2 separate regions of the Homo sapiens genome follow, and region 1 is linked to region 2. Evidence: fine-mapped QTL for protein levels in blood plasma. A gene starts in region 2. The other region holds a variant in brackets. All regions are shown on one strand. Distances are from middle to middle. Region 1 has its middle 20 kb from the start of GBGT1. Region 2 holds the start of CEL (carboxyl ester lipase).

Region 1 (8,512 bases), 82 kb after region 2:
CCTGGGGCCAGGTGGACTGCTTCACCCTTGAACTCCAGTCCTGTCAACTGGGCAGCAGGGCCTGGAACTTGGCCTCAGGGAAGAAGGGGGTCGGGGGAGAGTGGGATGCGTGGCCTGGGCAACTTACTCGCCTCCTCGGGGCCGTAGTTCCCCTACCTGAAAAAAACCTGTGGATTCAACTTAGGGCCTGCAAGTGTCCCTGCCCTCCACCCACACCCTGGCTCCCCAAGGGCAGCGGGAGCTGGTGGGCCATCGGCCATCTCCCTTCTGCGAAGCGGAGCAGACATTGGCTGCCATCTGCGGAGGGCCTGCCCATGCGGTGCCAGGGGCCTCAGGAACATCTCATACTCCCCCACATCCGTAGGCCCACAGAGGAGGCAATGGGGGTACAGAGGAGTTAAGGAACCCACTTGTCTGGGTCCCCTGAGGCCAAGCCAGGGCTCCCATCCCACCTCCCAGGCTTCTCTCCCCTTGACCTCTAGACAGCCCGAACTTCCCTGCGGCTGCTGTTCCTGGTGAACATCGTGACAGATGACAGCACTAGTCAGGTGATTAATCAGCTGATCACTTGATCATCGGGACAGATAAGTGCTGCTGCAGCTATAGCCCAGCAGGGGTGGGGTGGGGTGGGGTGGGAGCGGGAATCCCTTTGGAATGGATTCAGGTCAGGTGGTGGCAGCCCCCAGGACTTAAATACCTTCTGCCACCCTCCCCATGGTCCCACCCTCCCCACGGTCCCACCCTCCCAGTTTTGAACTTACATTACAGGCAAAGGGCACCCCCCCACACACACATCTGGGATCAGGACAAAGTCCCAAGAGGGGCGGGTGCCAGAGGTGGGGGAAGTTCCTGGACTCAGGGCCTCTGGTTGGCCAAGGGTGCTTTCTTCTTTCTCTCCACTGGACAAGCCCACCCCTCCCTGCCTTCCTCCCTCGGAACACAAAGGTCAGATGGGCACACCTGACCTCTCGGGTGGTGTCCAGCAGAGAGGTCCTGCACCCTTCCCATGGGAGCCCTTTCTGGACCCTAACCTAGAAAGAGGGAAGGACTGGGGTGCCCTCCAGCAGGCAGTGGGTCCCGGCCCCCCTTATCCTTCCCAGAAGGACTGGGCAGCTCAATTCAGTTAATTATGTGCCCACCATGCAGTGCAGGGAGGGGAGGCCAACGTGGGGGAGGGGGTGGGGAAGGTCCTTAGTGCAGCACCCACGCAGGGTGGGTGGGGCTGTGTGCCTGAATCTTCCCTCCCACCAACTGGCTTCCTGCAGCCTGTTCCTTGGTGCTGGGCTGGGGGCTCGCCTCATCCGCCCGCCTTCTTGGCGTGGCATCCGGCAAGAACGTGGGCCGGGGCTGCACGCACCTTGGGCTGTGGGCCGGCAGCTCCCCGCCACTGTCTGTGCTGCCCTCTGCCCTGCCCCTCCTCCTGTGGCACTCCAGCTGGGGGTGGCTGGGCAGAGTCCCCATGGGATCACCCTGAGCCCAGCCGACGACCCCCAAGTGAACATACGAGCCCAGTACCCAACTCCGGAGGTGGGCACACCCCTTGCCCATTTGACAGATGGGGCAAGGGAGGCTCAGAGGGGTGAAATCATGACCCAGGGTCACACAGTGAGCAAATGACCAGGGTCAGACTGGCATCCTGGCTCCATGAGAGCACCGGGAGTTCCTGCAGAGTTGTCACCAACAGTCCTACCCTCACTGCCATCCCCAGAGAGAACATCTGAGGCAACCAGGTCTCATAGCCTTCCCATCCCCAAAGTCCAACCCACTGGGCAGTGTGGCCCCACCTGCCTTTTCCCACCATTCTACTGCCCCACCCTCTCCCAGGGTCTGGGGCTCCACCTCGCTCCTTCCAGGCTGGACACCCCTCATCCATGTTCTCACCTCGGCTCCCGCAGTGCCCAAGTCTGGGTGCAGGGTGGGTGCCCACAAACTAAGGCAGCCCCTATGGGAGCCCAAGGGCAGGGCTTTCTTACACCCTCACAGCAACTGCGGGGACCTCAGGGCAGACAGGGAGGCTCAGAGGGGACCTGTGCTGCTTCTAGGATGCCCAGCAATAAGCGCTGAGCTGGAATTTGGACCCAGGTGTCCTGCTCCAAAGCCACCTGCCTCACCTGAGGACCAGGGGCCTGATGGCCGAGGTGGATGCCGACATGTGAGGAGGAAGGGCAGTGGCGGCCTGGTCCTGGTCCCCTCACTCTCCTGCCCCAAGGCCCCAGTAGGTGACATAATTCACAGGGCAATGTTTATGCACTGAACGGTAAACACACAGGCAGAGGGGTAGATGGGCCACCAATGGGGAAACTGAGGCCAGCGAGAAGGGACACACTAAGGTCACATAGTCAGTCGGTATCAAAGTTGGCCCAGAACCACAGTCCCCTGTTCCAAGGGCTGTACCCAGCCCAACCACAACCTGGCATGCCATCCAGCCCCAGGCCAGGGAGCCCACGGCTGCAGGGCGGCAAAGCACACGGTACCACACGTGGTACCCCATGGCCCCACACACTCTGGCTGGCACCGAGCCATCGCTGTGCTTTCTGACCTTGCGTTTTCTGACATTCTGCCACTGTCAACTCTCACTCAGGTATCCAGGAAGCGGCCTCTGTTGCTAGGGGACTGGCTTGATGCCGGGTGGCTGGCAGAGTGGGGAGATGGGGAGGGGGGAGTGGACTGGGGTGTCCCTCAGGAAGGATCCAGGGGCAGAGTCTACTGGGTCCTGTGTCAGGGTGGAGGGCCATGAGAAGTATCTGAGGAAACTCAGCAGGTCAGGCCCCTTCCTCCCCAGGCTCTAATGAAGGTCCTGGACCCTGGTCTCTGCATTTTCTCTTTCAGCCTCAGAGTCTTCTTTTTGGGCCAGGGGTGGGTGTGCGCTGGTGGGGGTTGGAAGTGAGCCATCGGAAAGCCCATCGGAAAGCCCCAGCCCGGAGCCTTCCTGCAGGCAAGTATTTTGGGGGCCAGCAGTTGCCAAGCAACTGCTCTGGGTTGCCACGGGAACACTCCCTTTTTTCTGGGGCTTGTCATTCTTAGGGGGATGCCACAATGCTTCCCGTTCCCTTTCCTCTCCACTTCCTCACCCTGGCTTGGCTGCCCTGGGAGGGGACACTGGGAGTCCATAAGCTCACACCCCACCCCTATGGGGGGGCCCACATACCCCTGGCCCTAAGACTCTTTGAGGCTCCAGAATCAAGAACCCCCAAAATGCAAAGCCCAGAGTCCAAGGCCTTCATTAGAGCAGGGAGACGATGAAAGGGGCTCATTAGCTCTGTTTATGTCTCCTTGCCGCCATTAACCACCACTTGGGGCCTAGGGCCTCCCAGCCCCGCCCTGCCCAGCAGCCGGGCCCAGCCCTGACCGTTGGAAGGCCACTGTAATTGGAAGGAATGTGGTCCTGGTGCCTGGCCCTTCCCAGGCTTGTGTGCACACGGGGAGGCGCCATTGCCAAGCTGCCACTACCTAGCTGTGGGAGTTCCTTCCCCTTCCAGTGCCTCAGTTTCCCCACCTGGAAGTGAGGATGGCAGTGGCACTTATCTTGCAGAGTGCTGAGCAGATACAAGGGACACTTTAGCACAAGGCCTACAGGCTGGCTGTCATCACCAGGCACCTCTGCAGCAGGGGACAGAGGGAAGGACTCTGTGGAGAATAGTCCTGTGGCTAGCGTGCAATGGTGACTGACCACGCCACTGATGGCAGAGTGGCCACTGAATCCAGGTCCCCAGGCTCGCAGCCCATGCCTTCTCCACAAGATCTGTCTGCCCCATACCCCTGAGCCTTCCACAGAAGCCAGGGTGCTTCCCACAGGCCAGGCACCCAGCGCCAGCCAGGTGTACAGAGGCCAGTATCTGCTGTGTGAATCAATCGCTGAACCAACTGTCAAGGACCAGCAGCCTCAGGGGCGGGCCTGGTAGCTCGGTGAGCGAGGAGGTGGTGGGAGGGCCTTGTGCGGGTAGGGAGGTGACAGTAAGAAATGGCCTCTTGCTGGATGCAGTGTCTCAAGCCTTTAATCCTAGCAGTTTGGGAGGCCGAGGCGGGGGGAATCCCTTGAGCCCAGGTGTTTGAGACCAGCCTGGGCAACATGGTGAAACTGTTTCTACAAAAAAAATCCAAAAATTAGCTGGGAGTGTTGGCGTGCACCTGCCGCCCCAGCTACTCTGGAGGTCTGAGCCCAGGAGGTCGAGGACGCAGTGAGCCGTGATCTGGCCCCTGCACTGCAGCCTGGGCCACAGAGCAAGACCCTGTCTCAATAATAATAATAATAATAATAATAATAATAATAACAACAACAACAACAATAATAATAA[T/C]AATAATAATAATAATAATAATAAAATAAAGGAATGGCTTCCACTCATTCCACTCCTGGGCCAGCGGCCCGCTGTGCACTCCGCTCCCTTTCGCTGATGCCATGTGAGCAGCTCCATGGCGGGGACCTGACCCCTGCTCCTCAGCCCCACACTGCCTCGCCCCTTTGTATATCAAAGGCGCCTCTGAGGGGCTGTGCTGACCCCCACCAGGAGCAGCAGGACCACCTCAGGCATCCCAGCTCCCCTGAGGCAGGGTCTGGGGCTGGGGTTGGGGGGAAGGACCCCTCAAGTCTCTATCTGCACAGACAGCCCACCCGTGCCCAGGGCTGCCTTCCGAGCACCCGCAGACCTGGGCCTGCAGTAACAGGAGAGCTATCTGCAAACCGCAGTGTCATCAGCCGCACGGCCTCTGGAGAGGCCTGAGAAAGGCCGGCTCAGCTTGCAGGCGAGGAACCAAACGAAAGGCAAACTCCTGGCCCCTGCAGCCTCGCAGGTCCCCTATCCCTCCTCCCTGCCTTCCTTTCCGCCCCGCTGACACCACGGTCTGCAAACCATGGTCCTCCTCGCCACCCCTGTCACCTCCTCCTCCGCCCCCCGCCGGCCTCCGACGCAAAGTCGCCACCCAGTCACCCCGCCTCGGCCCCGCCTGGTTTGATTTCCTCCCGTGTGTGTCACCCATGAGGTGGCCGTGCCCCTGGCCTGTTTACAGCTGTGCGCAAGCTCCTCGCGACCCGAAAGCGAGACCTTTGTCTGCGGCAGCTCCGCGCCGGGCTGGGCGGCCGCACGGGAGGGCACAGCGCCACCTGCTGGTGCTGCCGCCAGAGCGCGCCAAGCTGAGGAGCAGGCGGGCTCCGCTCACGCCCCCACACCCCCTGGCTGGGGGCTGGGTTCCTGCGATGTCTTCCGACTCCCCGCTGCTCCCCTAGTCCCCGTAGGCACGCGGGTACCCGGCCTTTGGGAGGGGGATCATTCCCAATACTCCTGTTACGGGTTGAACTGTGTCCCTGAACAAAAAGATCTCTGGTACCCGTGAATGAGATCTTATTTGGAAATAGGGTCTGTGCGGATAGAATCCGGATGAGGTCATACTGGATTAGGGTGGGCCTTAATCCAATGACTGCTATCCTTATGATAACAGGGAAAATTGGACAGACACGCACAGGCGGACAGACACGAACTGATGAAGGCACAGTTTGCAGTCACACGTCTACAAAACCAGGAACGAATGCCAAGGAAACTGGCAGCCACCAGAGGTTGGAAGATGCAAGGAAGTATCCTCTCCTAGAACCTTCAGAGACAGCATGGCCTTGCTGACCCCTGGATTTTGGACTTCTGGCCTTTAGAACTGTGAGAGAATACATTTCTGTTGTGTTGAGCCACCCAGCACTTTGTGACAGCAGCCCAGGAAGCTGACCCGATAGACACTGGTCCCAGTCATCACCCTCTGTGCCATCACCACACCTCCCCTCCACGAATCAACCACGACCACAGGACACCTCCTTCTGGAATCTCTCTGTGCCCACGCACTCCCCAGATGAGCACTTCCCCTTCCCCTGGCAACTCCCCGGATTCTTGTTACCCCCACCCCCCGCCCCGGCATGGCCTGGGCCCAGGAGACAGATACGAAATGAATGAGTGAATATCCACCTTTGCTACTTCGTCATATTCAGATGTTCGTAAAAATCTGTATGTTCGTCATATTCAGATGTTCGTAAAAATCAAGTGGCAGCAGTGCTGGGGGTTAAGGAAATGGGGAGAGTGATGGCAGATGTGTGAGGGGAGACAAGGGGCACTTCCAGGTACTCACAGCCACCCTGGGAGCTGGGACAGCCAACCAGTGTGTTCTCATGCTCCCAGCCCCTGAGGCTCAGAGAGGGGAAGCCATCTGGGTCACCAAGCTCCTGCCTCTTGCCAGTTCTGTGACCCCAAACTAGCCATTGTGCCTTTCAGGGCCTCCCCAGTCTCCTGACCTGCACAATGGGGATGGTTCTAACGTCTACTTCCTGGGGACATCACCACGCTAATGTGAGACAATACTACAAAACCTGTTAGCTGCCTCACAGACTTAGAGATGGAAGGATTAGGAAGGAAAAGGGCCTTCAGAGACTGCAGGGTCCTGCTGACCCCTGGATTTTGGACCTCTGGCCTTTACAACTGTGAGGAAAGAAACTTCTCACAGGGGCGAGACACAGCCCGGAATACAAGTCGGACAGGCTGGGCACTGGTGCTGTGATCTGGGGAAAGTCACTCCCTTCTTGGTCTGGTTTCCTCATTTGCACCATGAACGGGTTGAAAATGAAGCAAAAATCAGATATCGGCCCCCTGTGGCATATGGGAGCATCTTCCAATGGGAACACCTTCCAATGGCTCCCATGATGTTTGTTTGTTTGTTTGTTCGTTTGTTTATTGAGACAGGGTCTGGCTCCGTCGCCCAGGCTGGAGTGCAGTGGCATGATCTTGGCTCACTGCACTCATCACCTCCCAGGTTCAAGTGATTTTCCTGCCTCAGCCTCCGGAGTAGCTGGGATTATAGGCACCTGCCGAGACACCCAGCTAATTTTTGTATTTCTTTTTTGTAGAGACGGGGTTTCACCACGTTGGCCAGGCTGGTGTTGAACTCCTGACCTCAGGTGATCCACCCGCCTCGGCCTCCCAAAATGCTGAGATTACAGGTGTGAGCCACCGCGCCCAGCCTCCGTTATGTTTAGAATCAGGCCTGACTGCCTCCTCTCAGACACTGTCCCAGGCAGCCTCCACACTGGCCCCAGAGATCCCTGCCTCCTGGTACATAAGTTGCTGAGTGATCCCCTTCCTCCGAGGGTGATTGGATTTAGTGACTGGCTTCTCACCAACAGAACACAGCACAGGTGATGTGAGGTCACTTCCAAGATTTACAAAAAACTATGACTTCTGTCTTGCTTGTTTGCTCTTGTTTTCCTCCCCACCTTCACCCCTCACTCTGGGGAAGTGAGTTCTGATGCCGTGAGCTGCCTGCCCTACAGAGAGACCCACATGGCAGTGAACCAAGGGAGGGCCCCCACCAACAGTCACAGAAGAACTGATGCCCTCAGTCAAAACTGAATCCTGCCAATAACATGAGAATGGCCTGGGGGCGGGTCCTGCCCAGTCCAGCCATGGATGAGACCCCAGTCCCAGCCTCCCTTGAGACCTGGGGGCAGAGGCACCCAGCTGAGCTGCCCTGGATCTGGGTCCACAGAAACTGTGTGATGATCAATGTCTGTTGCTGGAAGCTGTACATTAGGGTAGTGTTGTCACATAGCTGTCCACAGGCCCCTGGGCTGCCCCTCCCACCCCCAGCTCACTTGGGCCACACTGGCCTCCTTTCTCACTCCTCTCTGGCCAAACTCATTTCTGCCTCCCAGCCCTGCCTGCTGAGCCTTCTCCATCACACTGTCCAGACTCGTGCAGGGCTGGCCCATGCTTTGTCTTCTGGTCACAGCACAGATGTCCCCTTAGCGAGACCTCTCAGATCCCCACCCAGCAGGCCCCAGCCCTCCATGGCAGCCCCGGCATTATTTTCGCTGCAGCACTGCTTTTTCCTTTCTGTGCCTGTTTGCTTTTGTGCCCTGTCCATCGCCCCCTCCAGACTGCCAGCTCTGGAGGGCAGGCCCCCCTGGGTCACTTTCAGAGCCACACCCAAGCCCAACGCTGCCCCCCCACAACCCAGGGTGAGTGCTTGGGCACACCTGCTGAAGGGAAAGAGGAAGCTCTTGGAGCCCCCTCCCGCCTCTGAGCAGCTAACATTGTGGAGAGGGATGCTAGTAATGGGGGGTGTGCATTGGGTAGAGGCCGGGGTCCCCCAGAGGGACCCTGCCGGGCTCTCCCTGACTCCAGTTGCTCCAATGAGTACAGTGGGCACTGCCTCCCCCTGGTGGCCGGCACTAGCACAGCAGCAGCAGCCTCAGGCAGAAAACCCAGAAAACAAAACACACACCTTTGTTTGGGTGTTGTCAAGGTAGCAGCTCTCCTGAGTCCCAGGGGGTCAAAGGAGCAGAACCTGCAGGCTCCAGGGGTAATTCAAGGCGCCTCAGAAGCTTCATTTGCTCCCCTCTTTCCCTCTGCTGGTCCTGGGGTGTCCAGTTCACTCGTGAGGCCTCCTCACTCCAACCAGGGCAACGGCTCTGGCCCCACTTCCAAATAAGAACCCTGAGGCTCCAACAAGGACAGTCTTGTCCCACAAGAGTTGTCCAGTGCTT
Region 2 (8,000 bases):
ACCCGGCCAGACTGGTGTCTGGCCTAATGAGGGAGCCGGGGCTCCCCATTGCCACCCACAGTGCCCGGAATGGCCCTAGGAGGCCCTCTGAGGAGAGCTAGAGTCCCAGCAAAGGGTGCAGCTGACCCTAGCACTGGCTGTGACATGCTGCTTGGTGCTGCCTCTGGTCCTGAGGGGTTAGGGACATCCCCAAAGGGTATACCCTGGCTCTGCCACCCATGAACCAGCCCAGCATCCAGCCAGTGAGTGGGCACCCAATGCCTCTCAGGATGAGACCAGTAAATGCCGGAGGTGGAGCTGGGCAGCTGTGGAGCCCCAGGCCACAGGCCAGTCTCGCTTGGCTCTCATGACTGTGGTGGTGGAGATAGCGTGGGGAGCCTCGCCCATGGTCTCACGTGGCAAGAAGTGCCTTTAGCTCTGGATCCCAACCGTTTGGCACAGCTTTGGCCACAGCCAGGCCCCTCTGGAATTGTCCTTATTAAACCAGTTTCCCGAGAAGTCTTGGTTTCTTGGTGTGAATGTTGGCGCTGCAGGGGAGTCTTCTTATTGCCTTGGGGCTTGGGCCCCCTTTGTCCCTTCATATATTCCTTCATTCATTCCTTCATTCATTCAGTGACATGCTGGCAGTGCTGGCCTGTGCCCCCCTCACATGTGGTCGGGTTGGGTGAGGGCAGCTAGGAGGACTCCAGGCCTGGGGTCAGTTCTTCTCTAAATGAATACCTTCTTGACAAAGTCATGGGAAACGGGCCCTGCTGTCCTGTGGCTGCCCAGTGTGAAACTAGTGGGTCCTGAGCCCACCGAGCCTGCCTGCCTGGCCCCGCTCCCCATGTTGCCCTTGGCTGAGGCACCTCTTGTGTCTCCCCAAGTCGGCAGCAGCACTCCCTCCCAACCTGTGTGCGTGCCGAGTATTTGTTGAAGAAACAGTCAGTTGTCAGAGAATGGCCCTGTTCTGGATTGGCTGGTTGCTTCTGTGTGGTGCTGAACCTGCTCCTCTCTCCCCTGTATTTCCTGGGGACAGGTGGAGGCTCAGCCAGATTCGGGTTCAAGGTCTCTTCCTAGGCTGCGTCAGTCTGCATGCACGGGAGGTCTGCTTACTAGGATTGACCAGCAGGTTTAGGTGTTGTCAGCCTGATGTGTTGGTCTTTTATCTAACGGTTTTTGGGTTTCTGTGGTTTTTTGTTTCATTTGTGGGTCTTTTTTTTTTTTTTGAGATGGTCTTGCTTTGTCACCCAGGTTGGAGTGCAGTGATGCAATCAGGGCTCACTGCAGCCTCAACCTCCTGGGCTCGGGTGATCCTTCCACCTCAGCCTCCTGAGTAGCTGGAACTACAGGTTGTGTACCGCCATGCCCAGATAATTTTTGAATTTTTGTAGAGATGAGGTCTCACTAATGTTGTCCAGGCTGGGCTCAAGGGATCCTCCCGCCTCAGCCTTCCAAAGTACTGGGATTACAGGTGTGAGCCACTGCGTCCAGCCTATTTAATGGCTTTTGAATAGCCGTTGATAATTGCCTGGACCTACTACTTCCTTAAGGGTGCAAAATGGTGATTTTTTTGAATTATATCGTTCCCTCTGCATTTAGTAGCTGGAATCCTATAAAGGAATCTTCCTCATCGTCTGTTTGATTACCCTGAAATACTATTTTCACAGAAAAGAAGGGAAAATGCCTGTTATCACCTCTAACAGTTTTCAGAACAATGAGTTAGTGCCCTGGCAAGGGCCAGTGACAGGGCAGGAGGGGGTGGAGAGCGTGTTTCCTGGGCTGCCTGGTGAACTCTCACGTCTGTCAATTGCAGGCTTGCTTTTTCATGCCCAACTTGTCTATCTTTGCCCAGAGGCGGCCTCAGGTTGACCTCTGTAGTCCTTTGACACAAGCCTTGGGTCTTGGGCACCTTCCTTACTTACAGCTACCACGATGCTGCAGGCTCCAGCCCCTCCCTGGCATTTCCTGTTGCGGACCCGGCCCAACCATCTCCCCAGGGTGCACTCAGTCGGTGTGAATATGGTGTTTAGAGACCCCAGTCTGGTCACCAGGGGTGGGGCTTGCTCCTGGGATTTCGTTACTGCTAGGGCTTTGGAAGAGACAGAGCCAGGAAATAAGTTTTTTTTTTTTTTTTTTGCCAATTTTAAAAAAATAAAGTATGAGGCTGGGCACGGTGGCTCATGCCTGTAATCCCAGCACTTTGGGAGGCTGAGGCGGGCAGATCACTTGAGCTCAGGAGTTTGAGACCAGCCTGGCCAACATGGTGAAACCCAGTCTCTACTAAAAATACAAAAATCGGCTGGGTGTGATGGCGCACGCCTGTAATCCCAGCTACTTCAGAGGCTAAAGCAGGAGGATCCCTCGAACCCAGGAGTTCAAGACTGCAGTGAGCTATGATTGTGCCACTGCACTCTAGCCTGGGTGACAGAGACCCTGTCTCAAAAAAACAAACAAACAAAAAACCTCTGTGGACTCCGGGTGATAATGACATGTCAATGTGGATTCATCAGGTGTTAACAGCTGTACCCCCTGGTGGGGGATGTTGATAACGGGGGAGACTGGAGTGGGGCGAGGACATACGGGAAATCTCTGTAATCTTCCTCTAATTTTGCTGTGAACCTAAAGCTGCTCTAAAAATGTACATAGATATAAACTGGGGCCTTCCTTTCCCTCTGCCCTGCCCCAGCCCTCCCCCACCTCCTTCCTCTCCCTGCTGCCTCCCCTCTGCCCTCCCCTTTCCTCCTTAGCCACTGTAAATGACACTGCAGCAAAGGTCTGAGGCAAATGCCTTTGCCCTGGGGCGCCCCAGCCACCTGCAGGCCCCTTATTTCCTGTGGCCGAGCTCCTCCTCCCACCCTCCAGTCCTTTCCCCAGCCTCCCTCGCCCACTAGGCCTCCTGAATTGCTGGCACCGGCTGTGGTCGACAGACAGAGGGACAGACGTGGCTCTGCAGGTCCACTCGGTCCCTGGCACCGGCCGCAGGGGTGGCAGAACGGGAGTGTGGTTGGTGTGGGAAGCACAGGCCCCAGTGTCTCCTGGGGGACTGTTGGGTGGGAAGGCTCTGGCTGCCCTCACCCTGTTCCCATCACTGCAGAGGGCTGTGCGGTGGCTGGAGCTGCCACTGAGTGTCTCGGTGAGGGTGACCTCACACTGGCTGAGCTTAAAGGCCCCATCTGAAGACTTTGTTCGTGGTGTTCTTTCACTTCTCAGAGCCTTTCCTGGCTCCAGGATTAATACCTGTTCACAGAAAATACGAGTCGCCTCCTCCTCCACAACCTCACACGACCTTCTCCCTTCCCTCCCACTGGCCTCTTTCCCTCCCCTTCTGTCACTCTGCCTGGGCATGCCCCAGGGCCTCGGCTGGGCCCTTTGTTTCCACAGGGAAACCTACATGGTTGGGCTAGATGCCTCCGCACCCCCCCACCCACACCCCCTGAGCCTCTAGTCCTCCCTCCCAGGACACATCAGGCTGGATGGTGACACTTCCACACCCTTGAGTGGGACTGCCTTGTGCTGCTCTGGGATTCGCACCCAGCTTGGACTACCCGCTCCACGGGCCCCAGGAAAAGCTCGTACAGATAAGGTCAGCCACATGAGTGGAGGGCCTGCAGCATGCTGCCCTTTCTGTCCCAGAAGTCACGTGCTCGGTCCCCTCTGAAGCCCCTTTGGGGACCTAGGGGACAAGCAGGGCATGGAGACATGGAGACAAAGTATGCCCTTTTCTCTGACAGTGACACCAAGCCCTGTGAACAAACCAGAAGGCAGGGCACTGTGCACCCTGCCCGGCCCCACCATCCCCCTTACCACCCGCCACCTTGCCACCTGCCTCTGCTCCCAGGTAAGTGGTAACCTGCACAGGTGCACTGTGGGTTTGGGGAAAACTGGATCTCCCTGCACCTGAGGGGGTAGAGGGGAGGGAGTGCCTGAGAGCTCATGAACAAGCATGTGACCTTGGATCCAGCTCCATAAATACCCGAGGCCCAGGGGGAGGGCCACCCAGAGGCTGATGCTCACCATGGGGCGCCTGCAACTGGTTGTGTTGGGCCTCACCTGCTGCTGGGCAGTGGCGAGTGCCGCGAAGGTAAGAGCCCAGCAGAGGGGCAGGTCCTGCTGCTCTCTCGCTCAATCAGATCTGGAAACTTCGGGCCAGGCTGAGAAAGAGCCCAGCACAGCCCCGCAGCAGATCCCGGGCACTCACGCTCATTTCTATGGGGACAGGTGCCAGGTAGAACACAGGATGCCCAATTCCATTTGAATTTCAGATAAACTGCCAAGAACTGCTGTGTAAGTATGTCCCATGCAATATTTGAAACAAATTTCTATGGGCCGGGCGCAGTGGCTCACACCTGCAATCCCACCAGTTTGGGAGGCCGAGGTGGGTGGATCACTTGAGGTCAGGAGTTGGAGACCAGCCTGGCCAACATGGTGAAACCCCGTCTCTACTAAAAATACAAATATTAATCGGGCGTGGTGGTGGGTGCCTGTAATCCCAGCTACTCGGGAGGCTGAGGCAGGAGAACCGCTTGAAGCTGGGAGGTGGAGATTGCGGTGAGCTGAGATCACGCTACTGCACTCCAGCCTGGGTGACAGGGCGAGACTCTGTCTCAAAAAATAGAAAAAGAAAAAAATGAAACATACTAAAAAACAATTCACTGTTTACCTGAAATTCAAATGTAACTGGGCCTCTTGAATTTACATTTGCTAATCCTGGTGATTCCACCTCTCTGTTGTTCCCATTTTACAGAAGGGGAAACGGGCCCAGGGGCAGGGAGTGTGGAGAGCAGGCAGACGGGTGGAGAGAAGCAGGCAGGCAGTTTGCCCAGCATGGCACAGCTGCTGCCTCCTATTCCTGTGCAGGAAGCTGAAAGCCGAGCTACTCCACACCCGGGTCCGGGTCCCTCCAGAAAGAGAGCCGGCAGGCAGGAGCTCTCTCGAGGCATCCATAAATTCTACCCTCTCTGCCTGTGAAGGAGAAGCCACAGAAACCCCAAGCCCCACAGGAAGCCGGTGTCGGTGCCCGGCCCAGTCCCTGCCCCCAGCAGGAGTCACACAGGGGACCCCAGATCCCAACCACGCTGTTCTGCCGCCTGCGGTGTCTCAGGCCCTGGGGACTCCTGTCTCCACCTCTGCTGCCTGCTCTCCACACTCCCTGGCCCTGGGACCGGGAGGTTTGGGCAGTGGTCCTGGGCTCCTGACTCAAAGGAGAGGTCACCTTCTTCTTGGGCGAGCTCTTCTTGGGGTGCTGAGAGGCCTTCGGCAGGTCATCACGACCCCTCCCCATTTCCCCACCCTGAGGCCCTCTGGCCAGTCTCAATTGCACAGGGATCACGCCACTGGCACAAGGAGACACAGATGCCTCGCAGGGGATGCCCACGATGCCTGCATGTGTTGCTTCTGGTTCCTTTCCTCCAGTTCCAACCGCCGCACTCTCCCACACCAGTGTGACAGGGGGCCCATCACCCTAGACTTCAGAGGGCTGCTGGGACCCTGGCTGGGCCTGGGGGTGTAGGGCCACCCTGCCCTTCCCCACCTGGAACCTGGCACAGGTGACAGCCAGCAAGCAATGACCTGGTCCCACCATGCACCACGGGAAGAGGGAGCTGCTGCCCAAGATGGACAGGAGGTGGCACTGGGGCAGACAGCTGCTTCTCAACAGGGTGACTTCAAGCCCAAAAGCTGCCCAGCCTCAGTTCCGTCAGGGACAGAGGGTGGATGAGCACCAACCTCCAGGCCCCTCGTGGGGGTGGACAGCTTGGTGCACAGAGGCCATTTTCATGGCACAGGGAAGCGTGGCGGGGGTGGGAGGTGTGGTCCCTAGGGGGTTCTTTACCAGCAGGGGGCTCAGGAACTGTGGGGACTTGGGCATGGGGCCATCGACTTTGTGCCCAGCCAGCTAGGCCCTGTGCAGGGAGATGGGAGGAGGGAAAAGCAGGCCCCACCCCTCAGAAAGGAGGAAGGTTGGTGTGAAACATCCCGGGTACACTGAGCATTGGGTACACTCCTCCCGGGAGCTGGACAGGCCTCCCATGTGATGGCAAACAGGCCGACAGGAGACACGGCTGTTGCTCGTCTTCCACATGGGGAAACTGAGGATCGGAGTCAAAGCTGGGCGGCCATAGCCAGAACCCAAACCTCCATCCCACCTCTTGGCCGGCTTCCCTAGTGGGAACACTGGTTGAACCAGTTTCCTCTAAGATTCTGGGAGCAGGACACCCCCAGGGATAAGGAGAGGAACAGGAATCCTAAAGCCCTGAGCATTGCAGGGCAGGGGGTGCTGCCTGGGTCTCCTGTGCAGAGCTGTCCTGCTTTGAAGCTGTCTTTGCCTCTGGGCACGCGGAGTCGGCTTGCCTTGCCCCCTCCGGATTCAGGCCGATGGGGCTTGAGCCCCCCTGACCCTGCCCGTGTCTCCCTCGCAGCTGGGCGCCGTGTACACAGAAGGTGGGTTCGTGGAAGGCGTCAATAAGAAGCTCGGCCTCCTGGGTGACTCTGTGGACATCTTCAAGGGCATCCCCTTCGCAGCTCCCACCAAGGCCCTGGAAAATCCTCAGCCACATCCTGGCTGGCAAGGTGGGAGTGGGTGGTGCCGGACTGGCCCTGCGGCGGGGCGGGTGAGGGCGGCTGCCTTCCTCATGCCAACTCCTGCCACCTGCAGGGACCCTGAAGGCCAAGAACTTCAAGAAGAGATGCCTGCAGGCCACCATCACCCAGGACAGCACCTACGGGGATGAAGACTGCCTGTACCTCAACATTTGGGTGCCCCAGGGCAGGAAGCAAGGTCTGCCTCCCCTCTACTCCCCAAGGGACCCTCCCATGCAGCCACTGCCCCGGGTCTACTCCTGGCTTGAGTCTGGGGGCTGCAAAGCTGAACTTCCATGAAATCCCACAGAGGCGGGGAGGGGAGCGCCCACTGCCGTTGCCCAGCCTGGGGCAGGGCAGCGCCTTGGAGCACCTCCCTGTCTTGGCCCCAGGCACCTGCTGCACAGGGACAGGGGACCGGCTGGAGACAGGGCCAGGCGGGGCGTCTGGGGTCACCAGCCGCTCCCCCATCTCAGTCTCCCGGGACCTGCCCGTTATGATCTGGATCTATGGAGGCGCCTTCCTCATGGGGTCCGGCCATGGGGCCAACTTCCTCAACAACTACCTGTATGACGGCGAGGAGATCGCCACACGCGGAAACGTCATCGTGGTCACCTTCAACTACCGTGTCGGCCCCCTTGGGTTCCTCAGCACTGGGGACGCCAATCTGCCAGGTGCGTGGGTGCCTTCGGCCCTGAGGTGGGGCGACCAGCATGCTGAGCCCAGCAGGGAGATTTTCCTCAGCACCCCTCACCCCAAACAACCAGTGGCGGTTCACAGAAAGACCCGGAAGCTGGAGTAGAATCATGAGATGCAGGAGGCCCTTGGTAGCTGTAGTAAAATAAAAGATGCTGCAGAGGCCGGGAGAGATGGCTCACGCCTGTAATCCCAGCACTTTAGGAGGCCCACACAGGTGGGTCACTTGAGCGCAGAAGTTCAAGACCAGCCTGAAAATCACTGGGAGACCCCCATCTCTACACAAAAATTAAAAATTAGCTGGGGACTGGGCGCGGCGGCTCACCCCTGTAATCCCAGCACGTTGGGAGCCCAAGGTGGGTAGATCACCTGAGGTCAGGAGTTTGAGACCAGCCTGACTAAAATGGAGAAACCTCTTCTCTACTAAAAATACAAAATTAGCCAGGCGTGGTGGCGCTTGCCTGTAATCCCAGCTACTCGGGAGGCTGAGGCAGGAGAATCGCTTGAACTCAGGAGGCGGAGGTTGCGGTGAGCCGAGATCATGCCACTGCACTCCAGCCTGGAGAACAAGAGTAAAACTCTGTCTCAAAAAAAAAAAAAAAAAAAAAAATAGCCAGGCGTGGTATCTCATGCCTCTGTCCTCAGCTACCTGGGAGGCAGAGGTGGAAGGATCGCTTGAGCCCAGGGGTTCAAAGCTGCAGTGAGCCGTGGTCGTGCCACTGCACTCCAGCCTGGGCGACAGAGTG

The links. PIP is the posterior inclusion probability: the model's chance that the variant is causal. Protein levels are from the aptamer-based SomaScan assay of Sun 2018.
Region 1: its variant is fine-mapped to the plasma level of the CEL protein (Sun 2018, PIP 0.95).

Annotation. Positions count from the first base shown.
Region 1 is chr9:133,139,503-133,148,014 of GRCh38, forward strand. It overlaps a transcript of RALGDS not described here. Among named protein-coding and RNA genes, the nearest start is that of GBGT1, 20 kb to the right of the region's middle. RefSeq lists enhancers at 2,807-3,086, 3,137-3,186, 3,586-3,715, 3,766-3,855, 4,308-4,867 and silencers at 5,014-5,113, 5,144-5,263. The variant T/C (reference allele first, on the strand shown) is at 4,296.
Region 2 is chr9:133,058,006-133,066,005 of GRCh38, forward strand. CEL (carboxyl ester lipase) reads left to right here and starts at 3,976. Exons shown (of 11, transcript NM_001807.6): 1 at 3,976-4,063; 2 at 6,399-6,549; 3 at 6,635-6,757; 4 at 7,035-7,232. The coding sequence starts at 3,998. It overlaps GTF3C5 (general transcription factor IIIC subunit 5), which reads left to right. Exons shown (of 11, transcript NM_012087.4): 11 at 1-498. LOC124902325 reads right to left here and starts at 3,327. Exons shown (of 2, transcript XM_047424377.1): 1 at 2,744-3,327; 2 at 76-169. The coding sequence starts at 3,327. The coding sequence ends at 76. RefSeq lists enhancers at 2,187-2,938, 2,939-3,691.